Homo sapiens: one gene and its partners. The protein of the gene in region 2 interacts with the protein of the main gene of each other region in a pairwise test. Each region holds a gene or a part of one and is shown on either strand. Other genes may lie near its edges.

Region 1 (7,994 bases), on a different chromosome or scaffold from region 2:
GTGGGGGCCTTGTGGCTCAGTATTAACCCTTCTCAGAAAGGGCCTGCTAGTGAAAGTATAAGAATTCTTCCTTTTCTCTTTCTTCCATATTTGAGAATGCCTTGTTCCTCAACAAGCTTGAACATCTGCATATGGCACAGAATCTCAGCATTGAAGGGACCTTCAGGGTCTTCTGGTCCAATCTTGCTACTGATATTTGAGAAAACACTACAGTGCCTATTGTGTGTTGTGTCCTTACTAAGGAAACCCTCCACTCTCCTCTGCTGTCTCCAACTCCCATTTATTTTCTAGAAGTAAAAATGAATACAGTTTAGATTTGTCTCCTTGCCTTCATTCAATCCTGCTGATTTTCCCTTGAAGTATCATTTTCTAGTCCTGTGCTACCATCCTCATTTTGGCCCACAATTTCTCACATCTAATCTATTGTGAAAGTTCTTCTCTCCCTGCTTCTGGTGTCTCCCCACTCAATCTACTTTGCAAAGCTTCATCACTCAAACATCCATTGGATGTAGATACTGTTGGGAATTAATAAATGTTTAAGGCAAGGTCTTGCCCTCAGGGAGTTTACAAATTAACATGCAAGCTCAGGATCTCATTGTTTACAGTTGAAATAATGTCATTATACTGACTTATTTTGTTAACAAACTTTTCCTGTCTTTCTTACATGATCAATTTTAAATTCCTAGATAGTAAGCTCACTGTATACATCTTTGAAGCCCCTTCAGTGTGCAGCACCAGGATCCTCCATGGAGATAATAAATATTTGTTTACCAATTAAATGATTAGGTAGGTGCCCAGAATTAATGCCTCTGAATTGATGCCAAGGTACAATAGATCCATAGTTCTGTAAGATGCCAAAATACTATTATTTATAAGGTAACTAAAGAGCAGAAGTTATGAACTTGACTCGATCATTTTCTGGATGGGGAGTAATGGGAATTCCACCTGTTGAAAGTCAAGGGAAATGCTCCAGTTTTCCTCCCCCTACTCTCACATTTTAAAAATAAGTATATACATTTCCCCATTCCTACCCAAAACAAGAGCAGAATAATGATATCCAGTTGATGTTGTCGGTGGGTGCTGGCCTCTCCACAATCATTTATCATTGTTTGAAAATGAATGTCATGTCCTTTAGTACATACTTAAATTAAAAAGAACTAGCACAGTGTAAAAGCAAATGAAATCATTTTTTCCTCCCCCAGAATATGCCGGATTTAATCCAAACCTTTAAACAAGGTAACATTAAGCAGGCAAATGAATTCTTTGATAACACTAAATACGTAAATAGGAAAGTCAAATGACGTATGCATCCCTTATGGGTCCTCTGTCGGGCGAGCATTTGGACCAAAACGCTTATTCTGATTTTGATCCCATTCAGAGAAAGATCTGACTCTAACTGAGTAAAATATTCGAGAGACGCAATTCCCCTTTCCTACCCCCACAAACTCATTAATGAGCATGCTCTAAGGATAGTTTACTAACTTTTTTTTTTCCCATCAGGGTCTCAGTCTTGGAGAGTAAGGTGAATTAGGAATTTCCATAACCAATACTCCCCAGCTCTTTGTTCTTTAACACACTTGAAACCTTCTGAATCTGCAGTACCCACAAAGCCTTATTCAAATTATTGTATTTAGTTGGGAATGCTTAGAGGTGGGAGTGGAGGTGGGGGAGGAGGCAGTACAATGAAGAAAAAGAAGTTGAACCTTTGAAAATAGTACATTTTAGTATGATGATGGAGAGAAGAGAGGCAGAAAAGCAAATTCGCATCAGTTCAGTTGCCATGGAGTGGAATGATGCTCAAAATCAGTAGTGCAGATTGCTCGGAGGCAAGTCTTGAAAGGGATGTGTACTGCAGGGATCGATAGGGGAAGAGCAACTGGGGAGGGCTAGGCACTGGATGAGAGTGGCACTGTTGGAAGTCTGTACAGGGGAGGAGCCATGGTTGGACCTGTGGGGAAAGCCCATCTTGTGGCGACACACTGGTAAGGGCTACTCAACTCACTGTTGAATGCTGGCACAATAATTGGAAATATTGCACTGAAGAATTGGGCGCGGCTATATTTATGTAAAATTCAACACGGATGAGAAATGATTGAATGTTTGAGTGTGTTTCCAATACAACCCAATACTTGGCGTTGGTGCTGGTGGTGGGTGCTTCGTAGCGCGGAAACCCTCTGACGCACTGGATTCATTTTGCAGAGCTAACAAGTTATCAGCTACATCCATGCCGACTCCAAATGCCACAGCTGTCATGCCACTGAAACGCTATTCCTACATTCATGCCCACATTTATATCCTATATGCAACTCAAAGGGTCCAATGTGGAGTCCCACATCTAACCTTTCACTGCTCACAACGACAGCTCTAGGGCTATAAGCCCAAAGGCACACTAGATAGCAATCTGGCATCGTCCCCAGGACACTTCTTCCTCAGTAGACTGCCCAGGGACAGATAGGTAGATAAGGTTTGGATGACATCAAGCGAGCTGAACACAAGGAAAAAAAGCTTCCTTGGGAGACAAGAATGCTGGCATCTCTACGACAGGGGCACTGTTAGCATTACGGACCTAGAAAGTGAGATGTCACACATAGTCCCAACTACCTCCGACCCAGGTCCTCTCACCTCACCCCCAGCTCTTAGAGCTAGTCGGCTGTGGCGCATGCGCACTGAGCCACACCCGCTCCCCACGGAGCCCTGCGCCTCTCTGCTCGGCTCTGGCAGCAGCTCGGGATTACTCAGCAACGCCCCCCTGCACTGTCACCTGCCCCCGACTCCGACCTCGGGAGCGGCTCAGTCCCTTTTCTCAAGCTACGAGTGGTCCTGGGGATCAACTAGACTTTCCTTTCTCCCTCTTCTCACAGGCCCCCCACCTCCCGGCCTTCCGGGTCCTCCAGCCCCTAGCCCCTGTTCCTGCCCACGCACAGGCACCTTACCCAACACAATGGGAAGGAAACAGGAGAGGGCCGCGGGTGCCAGGCAGGTCAGCTCTGCGTGCCGGGAATCCGGCTCCTTAGAGTCACCGTCACTGCTCCTGCTGCCTCCTCGTCCTCAATGGGGCAGCAAGTGCGGCTTGGACCTCGGTGGCCTGACAGCTGCCGCTCGCGCCCGCCGCTGCCGCCGCGCAGCGTCTCGAGCCCGCGCCCGCGCCCGCCAGGGGAGGGGGCGGGGCCCGCGCCGCCTCCTCGTGCCCCTTTCTCGGCGGTGGGGACCCGGTGTAGCCGCCTCCCGCCCTCCATGTGGCAAGCGCTCCCTGGCTCGCCCACTCTTCTTTCATGCTCATCGTCCAACCCTGGTCTCCCTTGTCCTCCTTCTCCTCCCCTAGCCGATTAGTAGGCACAGCGGCAATAGACCGTCAAATATTGCTCTTCCACTTAGCTCCTCTGCAGCCTGGGCCTAAGCCCTCAAGCAGGGCTAGCCACTGCCCCACTTCCTGCAATTATCCTCTGATCTACCTCATTTATCCTAGCTCAAAATCCTTTAATTTTGCCAAGAGGGTAGTACATACACCCTCTTGTTTCAAATAACTCAGGAAAACACATGATCACAACACATTGCTAGGCCCTCTAACTGGCTACAGCTTATGAAATTTTCAGGCAATTAAAAAAAATGTCCACATCTGTAGCGCAGGCATAGAGGACACACTGCCCTTTACTCTTACCAGATACAGTTCTAGAGGGCCACACAGGGGGCATTACTTGAATTTCCCGGAATTGCTGCTGGGGCAGAATTTGATGTTTTAATTGTGCCTAGCCGACCAGCTAGTCTCTTTTTGTTGTTTTCTGTAGCCCTCTGGTACTTCCAACTAGTTTGTGATTTTCCCCCTGGAATTGAAGAAGGACAAAGCTCCTGAGGTCATTTAGCCTGCACTCCACCTCTCTGTCAGGCAGCTCCATCTCTGAAGCTTCCCCATTGCCCGAAACCCTGTGACCTTGTGGCACAGGCCCTCACTCATCTCATGACCCCGTCCAGGCCCTCACACATACCCGCTACTTCCATCTAGGCCACTCTTCCTCTGTCTCTTGACAAGGCAATCGTGCAATCAATCTCCGCAGGCCCCAGCTTAAATGTCACTTCTCAGGATAACCTTTCTCGATAATCTCAGAATAGAGATGGTGCCCCAGTTTATACTCTTGTAGCCTCCTGTAACTTGCTGTATTTTTCCTTCATAACACTTACCCATTTTTGGTGGTACATTTAAGTGTATGATTATTTGGTTGACAGCTGTCTTCCCTACTAAACTATAGTGGGGAAGGACTATGAGGTCAAGGACAACGTTTGTGTTCACCACCGTATGCACAGAGCCTAGGGCAATGCTTGCTGCATAGGACATGCTCAGAAAATATTTGCTGAATATGAATGAATGCTGTATCACTAATAGTTGTTATATTTAAATAAAATAAATTGATGTAACTGAATCTCATGTGCTCCTATTTAAACCAACCCCGTTCCCCACACATACACTCTAAAACACTCTTCTGATGAAGACGAGATTCACACAATCCTCTAAATCAAATTTTCCGCATACATTTTAGTCTATTAAAAAACTATTGAGCATGGGCCCCAACATATGTATAAGGATTTATAGATTATATACATGTACTACTGTACATGTATACATTACACATTACTTTAAACATACATTTTAATGAGTAAACATTAAAATACTCCACAGAAATTTTAAAAGAATGAGAAAAATAAATATATTGATGTTCCAATGTTTTCTTTTTGCACCTCAATAAATAGTTTTGTGAAATGCTTTAAATAACAGTCCTTCATATTAGAGTAACTCGTCTTTAGGTGTAACAATCTAGACTACTTTTTCATTTTCTCATAGATGCCATTTTCCAACAGTTTAAAAATCTCTGAGAAACCCCCAAACCAACTGGCAAGTTTTAAGGATCTTTTAGTTTCTAAGCTACCTCGTTCTGTAGTCAGGATCTCACAACTGCTGAAAGCACCACACGTTTAGTGAATGTTGGAACACCTAAAGGTAAGAAAAATCCTTTGTTAGACCAAAGATTCCTACATGTAAATCCTATATTAAAAGAGTCTCTAGAGGCCACTTAAAAAGCAGCTACTATTATCTTTCTAGAATGGAAGCAACATGACTAACACTAGTTGTGAGGGATCAGCAAAAATGGACAGCACGAAGATTCAAAGTAACAGCTGTGGATGGTTTTGTGGCTCTCAGATGGGACTATTCCCAATGGTCAATCATTGAGATCTGTCAAATAGTGTCCTTCACACACAATAAAAATTCTATTTTTATAACACAGTTACACACACACACACACACACACAATAGAATCATAGTGTAGTCGGTAGATAGAAGGCCAAACCAAGATTGCGTTTGGATACCAGAGATAGGGTTACCTTCAGAGTCACACACACACACACACACACACACACACATACGCTCTTCAACATTCAATGAACAAGATCTCCCAAAGTCTCATCCTGATCAGTTTGAAATACATTGACCTGAGCTTCAGGAAGACATAATTGTAATGTGATTAATTTAAAAGAACAGCCTGGTCCAGCAGTCACAAGTTGTTATGTACAAGAGGGTTCCGTGAAGCATTCAAATAAGTGTATAAACACTGCATACTATTTCCCTTCCAGAAGAGTCACGTTGCATATTAAAACATTAACGTCTCTTGGAGTCCTGAAGTAAAGAAATCTGTTGTGTTGTTTTTCAATCTTACATTTCCAAAACTTTTGTGAACATGAATTTCTTTTGTTTATGGAACATCTATTAGCAGGACTAGAACAGCTCAGGACCCAATTTAGCAACTACTGTCCTAATCATTAATATTGAACATATTCATAGGCCAACGTATTTGTCATCTTTGTCCTAGAATATTTATGTGGCAACTATACACGTTATATTTTCCAGATAGTCCTGATTTCAAATACTTTGTCCTATTGTCCTAATTTTTACAACAATACTCATGAGATCATCTAATGTTTTATTCAGAAATTATGGCAGTCATAGATATGTAAATAGGAAATTAGTAAGAATTTGTGAACTATTTACCTATCATTGTCCAAGAGCAAGTCACAGTTTCTGGTGATACAATATTTTTTTAAAAAATCATTTGACACAGGGATAATATTATGGAATAGGAATACTTTGCCAGATTTTTCATAGCCTGAAGGAAAGATCTCTTAAGATTATCCAATTATGGAAGGCATCAGTATGAACTCAGTTTAGTCATTTAAAAAAAATTTTTAAGCTCTGTCCACTAAAAATACTTAGAAACAATGAAAATCTCAGTGTCCAAATTCACCTATAGTGCCCATAGGATGGTTCTAAATGCTATTTCCCAATAAAAGGACCCAGGATTACTTAAATAAATGGCTGACTTCAGATATGTGGCAAGAAATATCCAAGATGAACATAAAATATCTTGTCACACCAGATAGCAAGGAAGCTAAAAACATTATTAGAGTTGAGTCAAAAGGACTTGAAGAGGCTGTCATCAGTCAAACACGGGGCAATTTGAGCATCAGTAAAGATAATAACTACAATGAATTGAAATATATCAAATATGTTTAAATATACAAATTCATAAAAACACTTAAAAACATAATTGCTCAATTTGGCCAAACCTAGAAAGCTAGCTCATTATTTTAAAACTGGTAAATAAAGAGAGTGACTCAAACATTTAACCTGCTTTTTTTAAATACAAATTATTCCTTGGTGTAACAAAGGAGTTGGCGAGGAAAGTGTTTTAAAAAGATTCCCAGCTAATAAATTATGAAGGAATGATAAAATTACAACCTTTAATGAATTAGTGGATCTAGGTAATAATAGTTAATGTCTTCTAACATTACAAAAGGAGTGTTAACCATATATCATATGCCTCTTGATGGAAAAACACAGCAGCACATAGAAAGTATTTTTTGTCAAAAAATGCAATTTGAACCCTATCAAGCTCCTAGATATAACTATGAATTTTTAGAAAAATACAAGGAAAAATATGTTAACATTGTAGGGATGTAAGCAACAACATCCAGACTTAGGTTTAGAGTGCAGGTGTGTGTGTGTGTGGTTTAGAGTGCAGGTGTGTGTGTGTGTGTCTGTGTGTTGAGGGGGGAGAAACTGCAGAAAAAAACGTGGTTTCTTCAACAAATAAATTTTAAGAAAGAATACAAAAATGAAAGTTAAAAAGAATGCATTTACAATGACATCAAAGAGAATGAAATATTTAGAAGTAAATTTTAAAAAAGAAGTGCAAAAAAAAGAAGTGCAAAAGTAACACTCTTAAAAACACAAAACTTTGTTGAAAGAAATTAAAAAAGATCTAAATAAACGGAAAGATATCATATGTTTGTGGATTGAAAGACAATATTTATAAGGTGGAAATACTCTTCAAATTGATCTACAGATTCAACGCAATTCCTGTCAGAACCCCAGCTGGCTTCTTTGTAGAAATTTACAAGCTGATCCTAATATTCTTATGGAAACTCAAGGAACCCAGAATAGCCAACACAATCCCGCAAGAGAACTCAGCCTTTTCAATTTCAAAACTTACTACAAAACTACAGTTACCAAAATAGTGTGGTACTGGCATAAGGCTAACATGTAGATCAGTAAAATATAATTGAGAATCCAGAAATAAACACACGTGTCTATGGTCAATTGATTTTCAACAAAGCTGCCAAGGCCATTTAATGGGGAAAGAATAGATTTTTTCAACAAAGTGTGCTGGAATAACAGGATAGCCACATGCAGAAGAATGAAGTGGGACCCTCACCTCACAGCACATACAAAATTAACTAAAAATGGATTATACTATAAAATTGTTAGAAGAAAGCAGTAGTAAGTCTGGTCTTGAGTTAGGCAATGGATTCTTAGATATGACACCAAAAGCAAGGGCAACAAAAGAAAAAATAAATAAATTGGACTTCATGAAAATGAGAAATGTTTGTGCTTCAAAGAACACTATCAGAAATGTAAAAAGACAACTCACAGAATAAGGGAAAATATT
Region 2 (6,538 bases):
TTCTGGCCCGAGGAGGCGGTGGGCTGCGGGAAGGTGCTGGAGTGCAGGTGGAGCCGCCCTGTGTTCACCCCCCAGGTGTTTATCTCAGTGGATGATCTGGAACCCCCGGAGCCCCAGGACCCTGAAGATTCCAGACCAAAACCTGAGCAGGAAGCAGGACCCGGGACTCCGGGCACCGCCGTGGTGGAGCAGCAGCATTCCGTGGAGTTCGACTCTCCAGACTCAGGACTGCCCTCCTCTCGCAATTACTCCGTGGCCTCGGGCATCCAGTCAAGCCTAGATGAGGGGCAGAGCGTGGGCTTCGAAGAGGAGGACGGCGGTGGGGAGGAAGGCTCCAGTGGGCCCGGCCCTGCAGCTCACACTTTGAGGGAGCCCCAGGATCCCAGCCAGGAGAAGCCTCAGGCCGGAGAACTGGAGGCCGGAGAGGAGCTTGCGGCTGTGTGTGCGGCTGCCTACACTGTGCGTACATGCTCCCCAGGCTGTTCCCAGCCGCCCCAGAGGCCCTCCTGACATCCCAGAGCTGGGGAAGCGCTGGTGGGGTGGAAGGCGGGGCGCCCTGACTGCCCTGGAAGGGAGTTCTGAGCCCATTTCTCAGCATCCCCACAGGACTCGCTCTGGTCTCTGGGTTCCGTTTTGCTGCATTTCTTGGGGCGTCACCTCCTGCCCCCAGCCTGGGAAGGGCTGCCCGGTCTCATGCCTGAGGGCCCTCCACTCTTCCAGATAGAATTACTGGACACTGTGGCCTTAAACCTGCACCGCATAGACAAGGATGTGCAGAGGTGTGACCGCAACTACTGGTACTTCACGCCCCCCAACCTCGAGAGGCTCAGAGACGTCATGTGCAGGTGCCTTGTGGGGCGGGGCTCAGGGTGGGAGGCGGGACCCTGCCGCCAGTTACTCTGTGAAGATGAGGTCCGGAAGGTGCCCTGCTCCTCTCTCCTGCTCCTGAATCACACTTGGCTCCCCCTGCCTGGAACGCTTTTTTCCTGCACACCCCTCCCCCGCGCCTCTTCATTCTTAGGGGCCTACCAGACCTCCACTTCAGCCACACCTCTTCAGGAAGCTTTCCCTCATCCCCGCACCCCCGCCCCACATACCAAGCGTGACGGCCTTGGCTCTCCCTAAGTCGGAGTGCCTTGGGGGGGACCCGTGGGTTGTTCCCCGTTGTCTCCCTGTGGGGGGTGCACAGTACATGCCTTAGGGTCGTGGAAAGGCTGACTTCTGGGCGGCAGGTGGCTCTGGAGGACGTCTTCCCAGGGATCCCGAGGGAGGGAAGAATGGGGCACAGCCACAGTGACTCTCCCCCTGCCTTTCAGCTACGTGTGGGAGCACCTGGACGTGGGCTATGTGCAGGGCATGTGCGATCTGCTGGCGCCTCTCCTGGTCACCCTCGACAATGGTGAGGGATGGCGGGACATGGGACTGGGCTGCGTAAGCTGGAGAAAGGACGAGAGGGTGGCCAGGTCTGGAGGGGTGGGAATGGGAGCCGGCTCTGTCCCCTGCGTCTCCTGCCCTGCCAGCTTCACTCCTGTCTCCCCTCAGATCAGCTGGCCTACAGCTGCTTCAGCCACCTCATGAAGAGGATGAGCCAGAACTTCCCCAACGGGGGTGCCATGGACACCCACTTTGCCAACATGCGCTCCCTCATCCAGGTGAGGCCGGTTGCCACCCATGGGCATGGGAGCAGGCAGTGCTGGGCTGGTCCATCGTCCACATGGCTAGGGAGCATTCCACAAACATACTTGACATAGAAACTTAACTTCTTTCATTTTAAAAGACATGGTTTCAGCAGGGCAACGTGGCTCAGGCCTGTCATCCCAGCAATTTAGGAGGCCGAGGCAGGCGGATCACGAAGTCAGGAGTTTGAGACCAGCCTGGCCAACATCGTGAAACCCCATCTCTACTAAAAATACAAAAATTAGCCGGGCGTGGTGGCACACACCTGTAGTCCCAGCTACTCGGGAGGCTGAGGCAGGAGAATCACTTGAACCCGGGAGGTGGAGGTTGCAGTGAGCCGAGATCACACCACTGCACTCCAGCCTGGGTGACAGAGCGAGACTCTGTCTCAAAAAAAAAAAAAAAAACCATGGTTTCAGCGTTAGAAATTGAGGAGGAGTGTGTGTGTGTGTGAATGCTCGTGCCCATGAAAGTTCTGGCGAACAGTAGGGGTTGCTGATGACATCAGACACCCAGAAAATCCTATAACCCTAAAAATAATGCAGCTCAGAGAGATGGGTGATGGGAGGGGCAGCAGGAGCAACCCACCCTCCACAAGGAGATCCGAGGGGGAGAGAGTGCACCGCGCAGCACAGGGCAACAGACAGACCCACTGCCAGGTTGGGGATCGCCTGCATCCCTGGGCGTGAGCGGACGGTGAGTGGCGGCCAGAGGCAGCATCGGCTCAGGGCTCAGCCTCTCTCCCTTTTCCCACCCACATAAGATCCTGGACTCAGAGCTGTTTGAGCTGATGCATCAGAATGGAGACTACACCCACTTCTACTTCTGTTATCGCTGGTTCCTGCTGGATTTTAAGAGAGGTAAGAAGTGGGTTGGATCATGGGGCTGAGGTCAGGGACAGTGAGAGATCCCTCTTCCCCCAAGCCAACAGTTCTCAATCCTAACTGGACCTTGGAACCACCTGGGGAGCTTTAAAACCTGCCAGAACCCTGGCCCCACCCAGCCCAGACTCATGAACTGTGGCTGCCTGGGCCTATGGGTTCTTAAATGCTCGCTGACCAGACACAGTGGCTCACGCCTGTAAACCCAGCACTTTGGGAAGTCAAGGTGAGAGGATCGCTTGCACCCAGGATCTTGAGACTAGCCTGGGCAACATAGCGAGACCCTGTCTTTAATTTTTAAAAAAGAAAGAAAAAATGAGGCTGGGTGCGGTGGCTCATGCCTGTAATCCCAGCACTTTGGGAGGCCAAGGCAAGCAAATCACTTGAGGTCAGGGGTTTGAGGCCAGCCTGGCCAACATGGTGAAACTCCGTCTCTACTAAAAATACAAAAATCAGCCGGGCATGGTGGCGGGTGCCTGTAGTGGAGGCAAGGTTATGGTGAGCTGAGATTGTGCCACTGCACTCCAGCCTGGGCAACAGAGCCAGACTGTGTCTCAAAAAAAAAAAAAGAAAAGAAAAGAAAAAATTGAAAAGAAAACAAAATTTCCATAGGTGATTCCGAAGTGCCACTAGGGTTGACAGTTACAACTCTCATAGATCATAGTTTGGGGAACTTTTTTCAAACCAAAGCATTCCTGAGCACCAAGATGGGAGGCCTGTGACAGCTGCCCGGCTGAAGTGCAGGCAGAGTCTGCAGGAACCCAGTGTGCAGAAATTACCCAAGAAAAGGATGGGGCCTTGGTACGGGGTACAGAACCCCCATTCCTGAGCCAGGCTCTGTGTCATGGAGAGAATCCCACGACTTTGGCCCCTGAAGCTCTGATCCCTCACCTGGCTCCATTTAGAGGCCTGTGAGCAGCCAGTCCGGCCAGCATCAGCCCCAGCCCCAGCCTCAGCCTCAGCCTCAGCCCCAGCCTCAATCCCAGCCTCAGCCTCAATCCCAGCCTCAGCCCCAGATATGCGGCTAGGACGGGTGAGCAGCAGCCGCTTACTCTCCGCAGAACTGCTGTATGAGGATGTGTTTGCTGTGTGGGAGGTGATCTGGGCAGCCAGGCACATCTCATCGGAGCACTTTGTCCTGTTCATCGCCCTCGCCCTGGTGGAGGCCTACCGAGAGATCATCCGTGACAACAACATGGACTTCACTGACATCATCAAGTTTTTCAATGGTACGAGCTGGTCCAGCCATCCAGGCTGCCCTGAGCAGAGGTGTGGAGGCCCCCACCTCTGCCCCGCACACAGCTGGAGGGTTCTCAGGAATCCTGGGGGCCCTTCCCCAAAGGCCGGGATGTCAAGAATCTAGCAGAGCAGATGGAAACAGAGCAGGGTAGTCAGCCACCTCCTAGCCTGCTGCCCTTTCTCTGGGCCTCTCTACAGCTCTTCACGTTTCCCCCCAGAACGTGCTGAGCATCACGATGCCCAGGAGATCCTGCGGATTGCCCGGGACCTCGTCCACAAGGTGCAGATGCTCATAGAGAACAAGTGAGCTGGGGCCAGGAGGCAGCAGCCGTGCAGAGCCTGGGCTCCGGCAGGGAGAGGTGCAGGGGAGTCACCGCCCAGACCTCCCCAGCCACCAACCGACCCCACCTCTGTTCCTAACAAAGCGGTTGTGAGCCTGGATCCGACTCCCGGCAGTGCTGACCCTGCAGGGCAAGTCAGGGGCCAGGATGCCCTCGGATCAGGGCCGGGATGGGAGGGGTCAGCCTCAGGGAGCAGCTGCCTTGGGGGACACACCTACTCTGCTCCCCTCTCACACATCTGGGAGTAGCCCCACTGCCACCTGCAGCCGCAGCCTGGACTGCTGCCCACGAGTGAACCTGGGGCCCCACAGGATTAACAGGGGCTATAGCGGCCTGGGCCCTACTCAGCTGGGGTGGCAGAGGGCGAGAGGCTCTGTGCTGTGTCCCTTCTGAGGGTCCCTTTGCAGTCCCAGTATATTGTGCGTGCACCAGCCCCAGCTGGAGCAACCAAAACTGCTTCTGGTTTAGGCACACGTCACGGGTGCGGGAGACCCGGGCACGGGAGACCCGGGCCGCCTTCAGGCCGCTCCCCCGAGATTCTGGGGCAGTCGGAAGATGTGGGCCCTGGGTGGGAGCAGCCCACTTCAGCAGCACTGCCACTGCCTTTGGCCACCTGAGGTGACCCCCAGGCCTCCCCGGCCTTGTACAGTGTACCTCTGTGTATCTGTACAGCCTCGCTCCTGCCACCCCACCCTTGCGTTCTGCATTAGGTACTTCCCTGAAAACCACGTGTAAGAAGTGATGCTTTTGCCAGTGGATGATCTGGAATGCGACCGGAGCACTTGCTCTGAGGAATCCCAGGGTGACTCTGTCGGGGAAGAATCCGGTCACAGCCTCCCCTCAGAGACAGGCCTCAGTTCGAGGGCAGCCCATTATCTGTCGCAGACATCTGCCATGTCCCTGAGACTGCGGGAGGCAGGGGATGCATGGGTGTCCCCATCTGTCCCTGGTGAGAAGCAAGGCTAGCTCTGCCTTCCACATGCTTCTCAGGATGCCAAGAGGCCTAGGAACCCAGAAACCCCCTTGGAGGAGCTGTGTATGCGGGGGTGCCAGGAAGGGCATAGCTCCTGCCCCCAGGCCTAGGCATGCTGCTTGCTCGGCCATCCCCACTTCCTCCTCTACCCCAACACATGCAGGCTAGGCCTTGCCCTGGAACATGGAGGCCCTGCCCGGGGCTGGGGCCTAGTCCAGCAGCCACCAAAGTCTGGCAGACTTTCTGCATTTGAGAAACATGACAAAGGGCCCCGCAGCCCTTCTGCACCCAGCACAGCCTGCCCAGCCCAGCCCTGCCCCCGGGCACTGCACAGCCTGTCTGGGGGCCAGACCACCCCATTGTCCATCCTTGTTGTCCGTGAGTCCTTGGCCTCCACCAAGCACGTGTGGCCATTGTGTGCCTGCCTTAGTGACTCCGTGGTTTTGTGAGGAGCAGAGTGTGTATGATTTTTGCCTCAGAAACTATACTCTTCTGTGTAACAGACCAATAAACAACATTTGTCAACACTGGAGCCTCTGGGACTGGACACTGAGAGACCACGTGCCTTCTTTAAGCTCCACAGTCGGCCAGCCCCAAAAGGCGAGGACGGCAAAAAACTAAAGTTTCCAAGAGAGGTACTCCAGCCGCCAGTCTGGAGGGTGTGGGCTGGTCAGGAAGTCAGGGTGATTTGATAGCCAAACCTCAAGTACTCAGCGCCCTTGAGGGGACCTCACCCCAGAGTCATGGCCCCATCTCACGATGACCAGTGGCCCCTCTAGCCTGTGGATGAGAGAAGGTCCCTGTCCCATCCCTACCCCCTGCCTGCCCTACTGACCAGGCTGCAATGAGAAGCTGGAGCTTGACTATGCCACTGCAGCTGATGGCAACGGAGCTGCCCCTGTGGGTGTGGCTCTCACCCCGAGCACTGTCTGAGAGGCCGGAGGGGAGTGTCAGGAGGAGTCAGACCCTGCTGAGCTATAGACAGGCCCAGCTGTAACGGGTCTGCACCTCTCTTCCTGCCCTTCCCCAACCCGAGTGCTACTGGTCCCATCGTCGATGGCTCCAGGGAGAAGACACCAGTCACACAACATGTCTTCTACCCTAGAGGACACTGGCTTCCTGGACATTAGGGCCTGTTTTCCACTCACTCAAAGCTGAAGACCCCAGCCCATGGTCCTAGCAGGCTGAACCCAGCTTTATTATACAGAGAGAGAGACAGACAGATAGACAGACACAGAGTCTTGCTATCTCTCCCAGAATGGAGTGCAATGGTATGATCATGGCTCACTGCAGCCTTGAACTCCTAGGCTCAAGCGATCCTCCCAACTCAGCCTCCCAAGTAGCCAGGGATGCAGGCCCCCATCATGGCAGTTTTTCTATCTTTTTGGTAGAGGCAGAGGCTCACTGTTGCTCAGGCTAGTCTTGAA
Region 3 (7,484 bases), on a different chromosome or scaffold from region 2:
GTCTCAAAATAAAATAAAATAAAATAAAAATAATAATAATTGAGCTACAGCTGGTAAAAAAGGTAATACTTGCAAATAGGATATGCTTGAATTATTTTCCGTAAGTATGTATTACCTTTTAAATTAACAAATAAAACATAGTATTAAAATAGATGGCTTTTTTTTAAAGTACAATTTCCATTTTATTTTTCTCCAGGAAATAGTCCATCTTCAGTCTTTAAGGACTCAGCTCCTTACATGGGCTTTGGTGGGGGTCGTGGGGCAGCACCTACAGGTCTAAATCAGGGTGGGGGTGTTTGGTCCTTGCGGGCTTCATGAGATCGATTCCTGACTACTTTGCTGTGAATTGCACAACTCGCATAGTAATGTAGCTTCACATACTGCTTGGGAAGCACATAGGCATCGAAGATGCTCACTTCAGAAATGTCCCTGACTGCTGTGGCCTCCACTATGTTTCAAATGACGAATTTCTTAATGGCCTTGTCCTTGGGCACACATTGGGCACAGTTCATCCAGTGAATAGGCTGCAAGTGGCTGCAGGCCTTTTTGGCATGACCATTGTTCCTTCTTTTCTTTGTCATCTTGGAGGCATGGACTGGAGAGAGGAGGTTTTTTTTTTTTTTTGGTAGAGACAGTCTTGCTCTGTTGCCCAAGCTGGAGTGCAGTGGCACAATCATGGTTTACTGCAGCTTCAAATTTCTGGGCTCAAATAATACTCCTGCTTCAGCCTCCCAAGCAGCTGGGATTATAGATGTGTGCCACCACGGCTGGCTAATTTTTTACTTTTTGTAGAAATGGGGTCTCCCTATGTTGCCCAGGCTGGTCTTGAACTCCTGGCCTGAAGCCATCCTCCCACTTTGGCCTCCCAAAGTTCTGGGATTACAGGTGTGAGCCACTGCACCTGGCCTTAGGTGGCACTCTTTTGTATGAAAAAATATTGGAGGAAATACAGTAAAATGTTAACAGCCATAGTTTCTGAGTGGGTGGGATGTCAGTTAATTTTTTTTTTGGGGGGGTGGAGTCTCGCTCTGTCGCGTAGGCTGAAGTGCAGTGGCCTGGATCTCAGCTCACTACAAGCTCCGCCTCCCTGGTTCACGCCATTTTCCTGCCTCAGCCTCCTGTAGCTGGGACTACAGGCACCCGCCACCACCCCTGGCCAATTTTTTGTATTTTTAGTAGAGATGGGGTTTCACCGTGTTAGCCAGGATGGTCTCGATCTCCTGACCTCGTGATCTGCCTGCCTCGGCCTCCCAAAGTGCTGGGATTACAGGCGTGAGCCACCGTGCCCAGCCGTCAGTTAATTTTAAATTCTCTTTTTTACACTTTTGCATAATATAATTTTCAAATTTTTTATAATGAATATATTCATAGTAGAAATTTTCTCTTGTGAATAAAGAAAGATGACTTGCAGGCAGCAGAGCGGAGGATGGTGTGAGGTTGTTGTGGTTGCTTCCCTTGTTTTTATGTAGAAAAAGCATAATGTGGCCAGGTGTGGTGGCTCACGCCTGTAATCCTAGCACTTTGGGAGGCTGAGGCAGGTGGATCACCTGAGGTCAGGAGTTCGAGACCAGCCTGGCCAACATGGCAAAACCCCGTCTCTACTAAAAATACAGAAATTAACTAGGCATGGTGGCAGATGCCTGTAATCCCAGCTACTTGGGAGGCTAAGGCAGGAGAATCGCTTGAACTCAGGGGGCAGAGGTTGCAGTGAGCCAAGGCTGCACCACTGCACTCCAGCCTGGGCGAAAAGAGCAAGACTCCATCTCAGAAAAAAAAAAAAAAAAAGCATAATGCCTTTACATGGCAAGTTCTTGCAACAGCCTTTGCACCTAGTACCATGAAAAGCTGAAAAGTTAAGGCTGTGAGACAGTTTAAGCAGCCAATGGCACCCTCCCTTCCAACCTCACTTTCTTCCTCCATGTAAGTGCTATGCCTCAGTCTCCAAGTGTCCTGGGCATGTTCCACACTTGCCTAGTGAGTCTTGTCATGGGGCAGATTGATACAGGGATGGAACTTACAGTCTCAGATAAGGATTGAGAGCTGGGAACAAAGGGAAGGAAGAACAGAGACCACAGGAGTCCAGTGGTGACATATGCAAGGAACTTTTATTAAAAGGCTGCTAACAATCTTACATATTTGTCTAACTTTTCTTCAAGAGAGCTTTAAACCTACATTAATCAGCTCCTTATCCTTACAGCTCATCTGAGAGGCCCAAAGAGCCACACCCACCAGCCTCATGCCCTTTCTTTGCCCTTGGGGAAAAAAACAGGAATTCCTAAAAAGAATGAAAACCCAGACACCATCACACTTGAATGCTGTCCTCCCACCCTCCTCTGACCACTCATCCAGCCATCTGGGTACCCTTGTGCTGAGAAGAAGGGGAGATTTCAGGTGGAGAAGCAGGGTACCTGAGGCTTCCAAGACATAGGAGAAGCAATTAAAGACTTAAATAAGACCATGTGACCAAGTGCTGAATTATGGAGTTCAGATTCGGGTGTTCTAGGAAAGCAGATGGTGACAGAACTGAGAAGGCTGGGGTCTCAGGAAAGGCCTGGCATGTATTAAATATTTGCTGAGTGAATGAGTGAACAAATAAAGGACCTAGGCTTTGAAGGCTTTGGAATAATAAGGACATATGTTCACATCTGTGTGGAATTTACCAGTTGATAATGGTTTCATCCATTGTTATCTCATTTGAGTCCTGTGATAGCCCTGTGAGAAGAGCAGGGTGGAAATTGTTCTCCCCATTTTCCAGATGAGGAGATTGAGCCCCAGAGTGATGAAGTGACTGTGATGAATTCAGCACACATTTCCTGAGTGCTTATTATGTGCTAGGATTCATGCTGGAAGCCAGACATGTAGGAATGAAGTCCATTAAGGCCCAGATGCTCATTCCAACAGTGCTGAAGTGATACAAGGGCTGTTACAGTGTTCTGGGAGCACAGGGAAGCTGGCACTTGATCTGGATCTCCAAGGATGGGTAGGAGTCTTTTAGGAGGAAAAGAGAATTCTAGGCAGAAGGAATACATGTAAGGGACAAAGGCAAGGAATAATGTGGCTTATTTGGCATAAAGTGTGTAATTAGATCTAAGGGAAGCACAGGTTGGTGAAGAGAAGGGGTATGGGAAGATAAAGTTTAGAGAATTGCCTCTTTGGTTAGTTGGTTATTTGTCAAATTGAACAGTTTGGACTTGATCTTTAGAGCTGTGGAAAGCCATGAAAGTTTCTATGTTTTATTTATTTTATTTTTTAGAGATGAGGTCTTGCTCTGCTACCCAGGCTGGCATTCAGTGGCATGATCATGGCTCCCTGCAGCGTCGAACTCCTGGGCTCAAGTGATCCTCCCACCTCAGCCTCCTGAGTCATAATAGTTTTTGAAGCAAGAGAATGATAGCCCTTTACTGAGTCTTTCCTTGGATGTGCATGTGTTTGCTGTTCTTGGCTTTTTTTTTCTTTCCCCAAAATAGCTCAGGAGCTGCTTCCTCCAGGAGCCTCTCCTTGATCACCGGGCCTCCAGGCTGAATGAGATGCTTCTCATGGACTTCCTCAGCCAGGACTCCTCTGTCTTATCACTTATCTACTGCTTTGTTACTCTGTGTTGACCCACCTTTTATTCTAGTTTTTGTCCACCTAGAGGTCAGGCACCATGTCTGACTCATGTTTGTAAGCCCCATGCCCAGCACAGGGCTTGCCCCAGATCAATGTGCTCAGTAAATATTTGCTGAAGGAATGAATGGGAGGAGCTGGGTTCCACCTCAGTGCTGAGACAACATTTGGGGCAGGTGTAGTGATGGGGTGATTCTGAGTAGTGTGCATTTCCTCAGTGGTGCTGGAGTAAGGAGTGAGTGTGTGAATGGTGGGGTGACCATTAGAAGGATGGTGACTCAGGGTGACACCGAAGGTCTGTTCCTGAGTGACTCTAGGTCTCTCTTGCAGATGGCTTCAGTGACAGATGGTAAAACTGGAGTCAAAGATGCCTCTGACCAGAATTTTGACTACATGTTTAAACTGCTTATCATTGGCAACAGCAGTGTTGGCAAGACCTCCTTCCTCTTCCGCTATGCTGATGACACGTTCACCCCAGCCTTCGTTAGCACCGTGGGCATCGACTTCAAGGTGAAGACAGTCTACCGTCACGAGAAGCGGGTGAAACTGCAGATCTGGGTGAGTCCCGGGAATCTTGGGCAGGATTTTCCTGAGAAGCGGCTGGCCTGCCAGTACAAGGGCTTAGAGGTGGGGCCAGCTTGGAACTTCTGGGCCTTACAGCATCAGGCATTAATGCTGTTTCAGGTGTGGCCCCTGGGCTACCCTCTGCTAGTTTTATACAAGTTTGCTCTCCTCCAGGGGTTCAGTTGCTTCTGCTGTTTAACTATCCAGGAGGTTTTATGTTGGCTTGTCTAAATGAGTGACCAAGAAACTGGGGCTTGGAGTTAGAGACTTGGGTTCAAATTCTGCTTCTACCACTTACTAGTCATGGAACTTGACTGAATTGCTTAACTTCTCTGGGGCACCCTTTCTCCTTTGGGGATTGTAATAGCATCTACATCATAAGGCTGTTGGGTCCTTAGGTCCTTGGCTTAGTTCCTGGAACATAGTAAATGCACACTAAATGTTAGCTAAGGTATCAGTTATCTACTGTCGTATAACAAATCACTTCATAAGTTCATAGTGCCAGACTGGGCAACATTGTGAGACCTCATCTCTCAAAAAAATAAAACAAATTAGCTGGGCATGGTGGTGGGCTCCTGTAGTCCCCATTACTTGGGAGGCTGAGGTGGAAGGATTGCTTGAGCCCAGGAGGTCGAGGCTGCAGTGAGCCATGATCATGCCACTGCACTCCAGCCTGTGCAACGGAGCGAGACTCCATCTCAAATAAATAAATAAATAAATAAATAAATAAATTGGTAGTGTCAAACAACAATAATAATTCATTATCTCATAGTTTCTGTGGATCAAACATTTGGGAGTGGTTGGGGCCTCTCATGAGGTGTAGCCAGATGTTGGCTTGGCTTGCAGTCATCTGAAACATACACTGGAGCTGGAGGATCTTTTTTTTTTTTTTAAGACGGAGTCTTGTCCTGTTGCCCAGGTTGGAGTGCAGTGACATGATCTCAGCTCACTGCAACTTCCGCCTCCCGGGTTCAAGCGATTCTCCTGCCTCAGCCTCCCGAGTAGCTGGGACTACAGGTGCCCGCCACCATGCCCAGTTAATTTTTGTATTTTTAGTAGAGATGGTGTTTCACCATGTTGGCCAGGCTGGTCTCGAACTCCTGACCTTGTGATCCGCCCACCTCGGCCTCCCAAAGTGCTGGGATTACAGGTGTGAGCCACCGCGCTTAGCCTGGGGCTGGAGGATCTTAAGACTGCACACTCACATGTCTGGTGCTAGCTGTTGGCAGAAGGCCTTACTTCGTTCCCATTTGGCCTCTTAGAGTGTCTTCACAGAGCTGCTGAAGTGTCTTTATTTGCATAGCAGCTGGCTTTTCCCAGAGTGAGAGATGTAAAAGGCCAGAGGAAGTGGCAATGTCTCTTATGAGTTAGCCTTAGCCTTACAGCGTTCTGTTGGTCACTGATTCAGCATGGGAGGAAACTACACAAAAGTGTGGATATTGGGAGGAAAGTATCACTGGGGACCATCTTGGAAGCTGGCTGCCACAGCTACTATTATTATTAGTATCTGCCAATAGTACTAATAAATTATGCACATATTTTAGATGATATAGCAACATGTAGATCATATAGTTTTCAAAAATGAATTAGTACCTGGATTGGAAATTTTGAAAATTTGTGATTTAAAGTATTTAAAACATGTATTATTATTATTTTATTTTATTTTTTTCGAGACAGAGTCTCACTCTGTCACCTGAGCTGGAGTGCAGTGGCACTATCTTGGCTCACTGCAATTTCCACCTCTTGGGTTCAATCGATTCTGTTGCTTCAGCCCCCCAAGTAGCTTCAATTATAGGCGTGTGCCACCACGCCTGGCTAATTTTTGTATTTTTAGTAAAGATGGGTTTTCACCATGTTCACCAGGCTGATCTTGAACTCCTGACCTCAGGTGATCCACCCGTGTTGGTTTCCCAAAGTGCTGGGATTACAGGCGTGAGCCACCACGCCCAGCCAAAACGTATGTTATTTATTATCTTTCTATTCTGCGTGTTAAATGTACATTAATACATTATGCATATATCTTATTGGGGCAGTCTGTATGTAGTACTTTTCTTTTTACAAATTATTTCCCATATACTATCTCACAATTAACACTATGAAGTAGGTACTACTTTAATACACTCCTGTTTTGCAGGATAAGAAACTCAGAGATTAGTTAACTTGCCTTAGGTCAACAACACTGCTATAAAGTGGGATTTCAACAAGATCTTCTGATTCAAAAGTATGTGCTCTTTTCTCTACACTGTGCATCTGAGGTATTATAGAGTTCATATTTCCCTTCATGATAATGTCAAATATTATATAGGGATAAAAGTTCATTTTGTTCATTTGCTCTCTATTAAAGGCATTGAGGAGTCAGAGATCATTAGAAATAGAAGAAGCTATACGGGTCGTCTAGTTCACTGATTCCCAGACCCATGGCATCAGCATCACCTTGGAATTTGTTAGAAATGCAAATTTTCAGGCCCACCTCAGAACTATTGAGTCAGAAACTCTGGTGGGTGAGTGACAACCATCTGTGCTATAACAAATTTTCCAGGTGGTTTTGTGGCTGGCTAACATTGTAGAACCACTTAGTTTAACTAGCTTGAGGTGAAAGTCAACATGCATTTACTAAAAGCACCTATTAGGTGCCAGGTGCTTTCACTTGTGTTATTTGATATCATCCTTACAGTTCCATGCACAGGGGGATGTGAGAGCACAGAATATTTGGGGCATGGTGAGCAATACAGTAAAACTGGATCAAGGTTGTGAAAGAGCAGAGAGTGGGTGCTGAGAGAAATTTGCTGGAGAGGCTATAGGTGGCAGATTGGGGGTCAAAGAGATCTTCCACAGCAAACAGAAAGTTCTTGTCATCGGTCAGAGGATTCATGCTTGATGATTCCTTAGGGAACTGAAGAAATTATTAGAGCTTACTTTTAATCTTTGAACATAAGATATTTTTTACTGATATTTACTATGTGGATTGACAGAAGTGTCTTTGTTTGACCCCCATATCAGATGGTCAGATAGCCTACACTCAAAAAATCTTGAGATAGGAGGAGGCATTGTGCCCTTCTGAGGGGTTGACAGTGGACTGACTCACTTCTTTGTTTATGTTCAGCCAATTGTGAGCTTTTGTGGTTTTCTTGTGCCTGGGTAAGTGGATTTATTGATTACATGGTCTAGTTTTAACTAAATGAAACCTCATAATGGATATGTGGCTTTTAAAGAGTCCTATAAAGAAACCTCTGATTGAAGACTATGCTAGAAGATTATAGTGAATCCAAGTGAGCATAAAGAAAATGGCTGAACTGGTGTTTTTCCAACTCCCA

What was found. Proteins that work in one complex are often made in the same cells at the same time.
Region 1: the proteins of SGSM2 (region 2) and RAB9B interact in a two-hybrid assay, tested with the Homo sapiens proteins (one study listed by BioGRID).
Region 3: the proteins of SGSM2 (region 2) and RAB3B interact in a two-hybrid assay, tested with the Homo sapiens proteins (one study listed by BioGRID).

Annotation. Positions count from the first base shown.
Region 1 is NC_000023.11:103,829,127-103,837,120, forward strand, and holds the start of RAB9B (ras-related protein Rab-9B), read right to left. Parts: upstream 3,132-7,994; 5' UTR 2,934-3,131; intron 1-2,933. UniProt on the Homo sapiens protein: The small GTPases Rab are key regulators of intracellular membrane trafficking, from the formation of transport vesicles to their fusion with membranes.
Region 2 is NC_000017.11:2,375,417-2,381,954, forward strand, and holds the end of SGSM2 (small G protein signaling modulator 2), read left to right. Parts: intron 1-75; coding exon 76-459; intron 460-720; coding exon 721-845; intron 846-1,316; coding exon 1,317-1,399; intron 1,400-1,542; coding exon 1,543-1,652; intron 1,653-2,440; coding exon 2,441-2,537; intron 2,538-3,619; coding exon 3,620-3,787; intron 3,788-3,995; coding exon of another isoform or gene 3,996-4,015; coding exon 4,016-4,104; 3' UTR 4,105-4,848; coding exon of another isoform or gene 4,849-4,880; 3' UTR 4,881-5,638; downstream 5,639-6,538.
Region 3 is NC_000001.11:51,973,570-51,981,053, reverse strand, and holds part of RAB3B (ras-related protein Rab-3B), read left to right. Parts: intron 1-166; exon of another isoform or gene 167-608; intron 609-3,812; exon of another isoform or gene 3,813-3,841; intron 3,842-3,936; coding exon 3,937-4,164; intron 4,165-7,484. UniProt on the Homo sapiens protein: The small GTPases Rab are key regulators of intracellular membrane trafficking, from the formation of transport vesicles to their fusion with membranes.